Homo sapiens: one gene and its partner. The protein of the gene in region 2 interacts with the protein of the main gene of each other region in a pairwise test. Each region holds a gene or a part of one and is shown on either strand. Other genes may lie near its edges.

Region 1 (4,255 bases), on a different chromosome or scaffold from region 2:
TCACTGACGTGACATCCGGTCCTGTGGGCCTGGAAGTCTTCAAACACTTCATGTGTGAGGGGCTACACTTTGTAGTGCTTAGCAAGGCAGAGCTGGGATCACGTGTGCACACTTCCTGCAATCCTCACTCCAATGGTACCTTACTGTGGAAGTCTCCCCGGGAAGTCTTTGGATGGGGGTAACAGGGCACTTTGCCACGTTTATCCCCACATGTATTCCCTGCTCACTTCATGCTCAGGACCACCAAAATCAGGAGGTGTCAGAGGCTTTGCAGAATCCATCAGCCTCAGTTGATTCCACAAGTATGGGGTCACTTGCAACGTGCCAGCCAAGCCTAAATCAGAACCCTTGGATTTCAACAATGAAAACACCTTAGAGCTCCTGGCTCGGGAGAGTAGCAAGCTCAAGTCTTCTGCGCATTTGACTCCCAGTGCCAATGTGCCCTCAACTCCACTTTTATCAATCACATGCCCAACCCAGAAAACCAGCAGGACTGCACGTCCAGCCTCACCCACCCTGAATGTGTGTCCCCTCCGCAATCTCTTCACTCCTTGGGGGACTTCCTATGTTAGAACTTCCCCAGTGTCCCTCACCCAGCCTGGGCCACCACCTCCTGGCCGGGTGTGATGACGTCTTTGCAAGCAAATCCCCACTGACTCAGCACGTGCTGGGTGCCTGCAGCCCTGGCAGCACAGGGCCCTTCTGAGTGGAGGGAACCCTGGAGAGGACTTGCCAAATGCACCCTACAGGTGGAGCATCCCTTATCCAAAATGCTTGGACCAGAAGAGTTTCCAATTCCCGATTTGTTTTTCAGACTGTGGAATACTTGCATTTATACTTACTGGTTGAGCAACTCAAATCCAGAAATTGGATACTTGAGATGCTCATGTAAGCATTTCCTTTGAGAGTCATACCAGCGCTCACAAAGTTTCAGAATTTAGAGCATTCTGGATTTCTGATCTTCAGATTTGGAATGATCAACCTGTACTATTTATGACACTATAAAGAAAATGACAGGACCTGGGCCGATCAGCTCCCCAATGTCCCTCTACTGTCTACATAGAAAGCTGTTTTCCTTTTTAAGGAACTATCTCAGACATGTGTTAAATACCCCCTACACACACCAACCAAAAAAAAAAAAAAGAAAAAAGAAAGAGAGAGAGAAAGAAAGCAGCTTTTCCTCGCAGGGTAGTTTTTGATGTGAGTCCCTGGGGCTCAGGCGCATTGGGAGGCTGAGACTCCAGTGGGGACCTGCTGACCTTCAGCTCAGGGGCCTCCACCTGCTCTGCTGTAAAACAGGGGGCTGAGTGAGGTGGCAGCTAACAGTCCCCCAGCTTGGACAGCCTGTGTGTAGATAATCCTGGCGCCACGCTGTACTGTTAGCACAGACCGTCCCCAGGGAAATATGACTTGCCCGGGTCACCGGTAGGGCCACGGCCGAACCCAGGCGCCAGCTGACTCTCCTGACAGCGTCCAGCCCACTTTCCACCACAGCCCAGCTCCCCGGCCACTCCCGGAATGCTCCTGACACGTTTAGGAATCATGACACCAGGATGAAACGCGAGCCTCTCCTCCAGTGCAGGGGACCACGTGTCTGATATCCCCATCCTAATTCCTTCCTGCAAACAACGTGTGGAGCCCATTCCTCATGTCACCAGGATGGGTTTTAATTTGCAAAAATGTTTGAAGTACAAAACATTGACTTCCACTTAATGAAGGAAATTGTTTGTACAGTTAAAAATGTCAAAGTCAATAAATACACCAAATTAAAGCTTTCTAGAGGGGAAAGGGACTCCCAGACACGCAGCGTTGGCCTGTGCCACAAGTGGCTAAGCCCTTGGCTCCCAAGACAAGTTTTAGCTTGGGACTTGGTTTATTAAATAACGCCTTAAATTATCTTTGTTCCACGCTTTCTTTGAGTCCTGTTTTACTTCTACTTAGTAAGAAAGGAATGTGAAATGGAGAATTAGAAAAGGCCAGGTGTTCCCAGTGATGGCAAACCCCTTCCTTCCGTTTGCCTCCGGTGCCTTCCACGTGCAACCACCCAGCCCCACTGTCTTTCTCCAGCAGGTTGCATTTCAAGAGCACGCCCTGAGAAGGCACAGCCTCTATCAGCGGAGTGGAGCTGAAGAAGTCTGAAGGGTCACAACACACCCAACAGCACAAAGAAGAAAACAGCCGTAAGAACGCTGTCATTTTTGGGCAAAAACTTGCAAGTCCTGACAAGGATTGTTCTCTTTCCCATACCGTGGATAATATAGGCTAGGTCTAAGCTGAATGACCCTCGACTCTTTTTTCCCTTAAGAAAATATCCAGTTTTATTATTTCACACCTTTATAAGTCAGCCCTCTCCTCGGGGGAGGCTTTCGTTTCTGAGAATCTCATGAAACTTGCAGACATCAGTCCACTGACTGGGGGGCCCCCTGGGGCCACGATGAGACCAGGGCTAAAACCCAAAGCACACGCCGCAGGGTGCTAAACGGCACTTAGCAAAGACCACGGCTGTGGGAAATAAAATGTTAGTTGAGCATAAAACCTCGTCAAAGAAATACAGATCCCAGAACTAATTGCTCTGTTTTCCACAGTAAAGGGTGCCTGCGACGGGGTGCACTGGCTCTCTCTTCTTGACCCTGAAGTAGAGGTACTTAGAAAATGTGAGTGCAGAAGTTACCGGTCCTCCCCTTAAAGCCACAAATTAGAAAAGGCAAGAAGAGAAAGACACTTACCCAGACAGAAAGGAAAATTGCAAGGAGGAGAGAGAATTCCTGACCACCGGCTCACCAAGCCACCCACACTCCAGCCGAGGAAGGCAGAGCTGACTCCTGCAAAGCAAGCGCCTGTGCCTCCCTCCCGTTTAAGGTCTGAGGAGCTACTATATATAGACGCCTGGGCCTGCCTCTCCCCACATCAATACCCACATCGTAAATCACCAGCCTGACCTCAGGAGGAAAAGCTTCTTGTTCAAACTGAGGGCGGGGGAAATCACGATTCAAAACTGGAACGTGTCCTTTCTGAGTCCCAAACTGCACTTTTCCCAGGAAACCGGGTGTGACACTTCAGCCCCCGACCCAGAAAGAGAGGGCAGGGCACTGACTTCCCACGCTCCCTCCCCGCAACTCTCCTCCATGAGTTCTAATCCTTACGTGTGAATTCTCAGACATATCTTCAATCCTTTCGAGCTACAGGTTCCCTGGCTCACAAATTGCAACTCCTGAATGAGTCTTTAATAATGACATGGATTTCAGTGAGCATTTGTGCCATTCGCAGGCCTGGACACCCGAGTTGAGGTCGGCTGTGGAGGGAGGGAGGTGCACAAGCCCCTGGGTTTGTGAGCGTGTGTGTGCATGTTCGTGTGTTTGTTCGTTTTTTTTTTTTTATTTCAAGAACGACTCAGGTCTTCACTCGATTGTATCTTAGGGCTATTTTAGCAAGAACTGCCTACCCAAAAGAGGAGCGGTGCCTAGTCGGCAAGTCGGGGCTTATTTATAGCCATTACCACAGACGTACACTGCGTCTACACCACACGGATAATTGCAGGGTGCCCGTCGTTTCGCACAGCGTGTGTCCAAATATAGATAACACACACCTGGCACGGTCCTGGGCTGCAGCCTGGCCAAGAGGCGGGGCCTCAAGGGGATGCCCCCATCTGAGGACCCGGAGAATCACACTCCAGCTGCACCTCACCACAGGGGCTGAGGACTTCGGCCAGCTGCTCAGCCCACGGGGGCTATGCTCCCCAGCTCTAAAACGCATGGAATAACAACTTTCCTGTAAGTTTGTTGTGACAAGTAGAGAAAATATGATAAGAGAATTGCCTTAAGAAACTCCACGTTCTCACACTGGGGTATCAGAGGCACAGCCAAGGACCAGCGAGCAGGTGGATGGAGGCGAAGATCAGATACGAGAAAGACGCGAGCACAGCCTCTTGCTGGGCCCCAGAGCGTTCTGGATGCTGGATCAGGAGGCGAGTGTTTCTGTCTTCTTCCCCTTCGTATTCTGATGGCCTAGCATTTAATTTAATTAGTGTTTGTTGAGTGATTTCTTAGTCTATTCAGGCTGCTTTAGCAAAACACCATAGACCGTGTAGCTTATAAAACACAGGAGCTTCTTTCCCACAGTTCTGGGGACTGGAAGTCCAAGATCCAGGTACCAGCAGACACTGCCTGGGGAGAGCCTTCTGGTTCTGGGACGGCGCGGTCCCTGAGTCCTCACCAAGTCAAGGGGCCAGGCCGCTCTTGGGGCCTCTGTATGAGGA
Region 2 (3,521 bases):
TCCTGTTCACACATAACCTTCCCCAGCCCCTCATCTGTCTGCCTCCCCTCAAGATGGCTTGCCATAAATGGGCCAGGAGAACCCCATCTTCCCACAAGCCCAGAGGACAAAGGGCTTGGTAATGGGAATTACAATGGGAAGAAATGAGTGGGAAGAAGGGAGCACCCTGGGCCAAGGGGGCTCGGCACCAGGAGGAGCTGAGGAGGACGGCAGGTGGGCTGAGGGTGTGTTTCTCCCACCTGTGGTGGGCAGGGGGTATGCTGGCTTCTGGCGGTGGCTGGAGAGGGTGGTGGCTCTATTTAAAAGGGGATGCAGGCTACAGCTGTGAATCCTTGTGTACTCTCAGAGACTCGCCTGGGACTGGCACTTAGGCAGCCATTGCCTCACCTGGCCCAGTGGTTCACACTTCTGCGGGCTCAGAAAGGGCACTGGCCAGCACCCACACCCCGAACCGCTGCCCTTTGCCCAGCCCTGGGCAGTATCCATGGTGGTGGGTGGGGCAGGGTTGACGGAAGCTGGGGTGCAGGTCCACAGTAGATGGGCTCAGGGTGCTCTAGGTGAACTTTAGGGGTCTCCCTAAATCTCCTTTAAATCCTGGCTGGACCAGGGAGAAGGCTGGGAGGAGAGGTGTCGCCTCTGCTGCATTTGGCTGGTTTGGGGGAAGTGAAAGGGGTTTTCAGTGCTGCTCCACGAAGGCCTCCTAGGCCAGGCCTTTGAATTTGCCCCCACTCCCCTGCATTTCCACCTCCCCTAGTCCAGACCCCATCCCCGGGTCCTCAGGGCAGTGAAGAAGAGTCTGGAGTCAGGATCTCGGCTTCAAGGAAAATTGCTTTATTCTGCTTCCTCCCAAGGAGCTGTTACACAGGCTCCAGCATGGGGCTTTGCTGGCACCTCCAGGGCTGAGCAGATCAAGATGTGGCAAAGCTACTCCTCATTCAAGCCCTTTTGAAAGGAAACAAAGTCCAATCAGTCCTTGGAGAGATGGTATTGGGCAGGGACAGGGCATGGGAACAAAGGTGAGAGGGGTCTGATGGTGGGGGGCCTGCTTTGTGGGCAGGTGGAAGCCCCTGTGGCAGCAGCACATGTGTTTCCAGGGATCGATGTTCGGGGGGCAAGTTCTGGAGGGTAGGGTTCTGGGGTTGGTCAGAGGGAAGTTGCCTGGGCGAGAACAAAGCCAGGCCCGGGTTCTCTGGGATGTCCATTTTAGGTTTGAGTTACAAGATTGCAGGACAAAATTAGGTGGAAGGGAACTGGAAACTAGCAGTTGGGGGGAAACTGGGATATACTGGTTGTATATAAATTAGGGTCTTCTAGGGTGGCACCCCTCCCTAAGGCTGAAATTCCCAGAACCACTGAAACTTAGAGCTGAGCTGGGAGTGGTGGCTCACGCCTGTAATCCCGTACTTTGGGAGGCTGAGGCGAGTGGATCACAAGGTCAGGAGTTCAAGACCAGCCTGGCCAACATGGTGAAACCGCATCTCTACTAAAATATAAAAATTAGCTAGACATGGTAGCACATGCCTATAATCCCAGCTACTTGGGAGGCTGAGGCAGGAGAACCCAGGAGGCAGAGGTTGCAGTGAGCTGAGATTGTGCCACTGCACTCCAGCCTGGGCGGCAGAGTGAGACACCGTCTCAAAAAAAAAAAAAAAAAAAGTTAGAGCTGGAAGAATCCTTGAAATCACAGAGAACTGCATTACCTTGGCCTCTGGGGCCATGTGGCTCAAGTGTGTGGAATAAATGAAAAGGAAGCATCCCGGGTTTGAGGGTGCTCTGTCTGGGTATGCCTGCTGTGGGGGTGACTAGCAAAGCCCAAAAGAGGGACCCACCTTCGTGCCAATGTCACGGCTCTTGGCCCGCAGCTTGTTGACCTGGGACTCGGCGATGTCCGCCCGCTCCTCTGCCTCATCCAGCTCGTGCTGCACCTTGCGGAACTTGGACAGGTTGGTGTTGGCTTGCTCCTCCTGCGGGAGGTGGGAGCATGAGGTGAGAGGGGGCCTGGGTTCTCAGACTCCTGGCTTGGGGGACGAGCTCTCCTATGCCTCCCCTGGGCCTAGTCCCCAGCAGGGTCACTCACCGCCTCCTCGGCCTGGCGCTTGTAGGCCTTGACCTTTAGCTGCAGCTTGTCTACCAGGTCCTGCAGCCGCAGCAGGTTTTTCCTGTCCTCCTCCGTCTGGGGGCCAGAGGGTAGGCAGGGGGTGAAGATGGCACAGTCATAGAAGGTAGCATCCCCTCCGCCCTGCCCTGCTTCATCTGATATCCTGACCCAATTCTACTTTCTGATCCTCACTAAACACTTGAATTCTCCTTATAATTTCTTACCAAATATGTGTAAATATTTTAAATGATCTGTACCAGGAAAGAGTCCAAAGAACTAGTGGGACTCCTGAAATTATGCACAAAATTGTGTGTGTGCAGTGCTCCAGGGAGCAGGTTTTTCAGGGTCCGGGGACCCCATGCGGGATGAAGTCCCCTGCTCTGGACCTCGGCACATGCTGGGAGTGACTTTGGGGCTATGAGTGTGATGGAATTTCCTGGGCTGCAATGCAGGCCAGGAAAACACTGACTTAATCTAAGTTAAGGACAAAGTGTGCTTAGAGAGATAGTGACATCCTGGATTGGAAAAGAAACAAATTCTAATTCAGAGTCTGATTCTAGAAAACACCTCAGAAAGCTAGAGTCCACACTGCCCTGGGCAATGAAAAAGTTTTTATGCTTGTTTGAATGGGATGGGTGTGTTTTTGGTGTCTTTTGGGGGTGACCCTGGCTACATATTTGCTTTCTGGTGAGCTGTACTGGGTGAGCTTTGTCTGGAATTCTGTGTGTGTCCCCTGGCGATGGGCTAAGAGTGGGTGTTGAGATGGAGCTCCCAGGCCAGGAGGCTCAGAGACTGACCTCTGAGCTAGGGGACATTCAGAGTGGGGCAGGGCTAGGCAAAGTGAAACGGGGGCTGCATTCCCATCCTCGCCCTGGAAGAGGCTAAGAGCAAACTCTTCATTCTCCTCAGCTGGTTGTCACTGTGGCTATGGTGCCAGGGCTCTGCCTGGAGTCACCGCCCGTCGCACCTGGTAGGTGAGCTCCTTGATGCGCCGCTCGCTCTTCCTCATGCCCTTCACCGACTCTGCGTTGCGCTTCTGCTCGGCCTCCAGCTCATTCTCCAGCTCCCGCACCCGCGCTTCCAGCTTCTGCAGCTGCTTCTTGCCGCCCTTGAGGGCGATCTGCTCGGCTTCGTCCAGCCGGTGCTGCAGGTCCTTAATGGTCTGTTCCATGTTCTTCTTCATGCGCTCCAGGTGGGCGCTGGTGTCCTGCTCCTTCTTCAGCTCCTCTGCCATCATGGCGGCCTGTGTGCAGGAGAGAGGTGGCACATGGTCTGGTCAAGTCCTCACACACTTGCTGCCCAGCCCACGGAGAGACACTGGTCTGGATCGGGTCGGTGGAGTGGGGGACTTACATCCGTGATGGCCTTCTTGGCCTTCTCCTCAGCATTCCTGCACTCCTGCACTGCCTCCTCCACTTCAGTC

Evidence for each region.
Region 1: the proteins of MYH7 (region 2) and MYOM2 interact in a two-hybrid assay, tested with the Homo sapiens proteins (one large-scale study listed by BioGRID and IntAct).

Annotation. Positions count from the first base shown.
Region 1 is NC_000008.11:2,043,640-2,047,894, reverse strand, and holds the start of MYOM2 (myomesin-2), read right to left. Parts: upstream 2,850-4,255; 5' UTR 2,727-2,849; intron 1-2,726. UniProt on the Homo sapiens protein: Major component of the vertebrate myofibrillar M band. Binds myosin, titin, and light meromyosin. This binding is dose dependent.
Region 2 is NC_000014.9:23,411,930-23,415,450, forward strand, and holds the end of MYH7 (myosin-7), read right to left. Parts: coding exon 3,452-3,521; intron 3,342-3,451; coding exon 3,066-3,341; intron 2,174-3,065; coding exon 2,078-2,173; intron 1,965-2,077; coding exon 1,830-1,964; intron 943-1,829; coding exon 925-942; 3' UTR 811-924; downstream 1-810. UniProt on the Homo sapiens protein: Myosins are actin-based motor molecules with ATPase activity essential for muscle contraction. Forms regular bipolar thick filaments that, together with actin thin filaments, constitute the fundamental contractile unit of skeletal and cardiac muscle.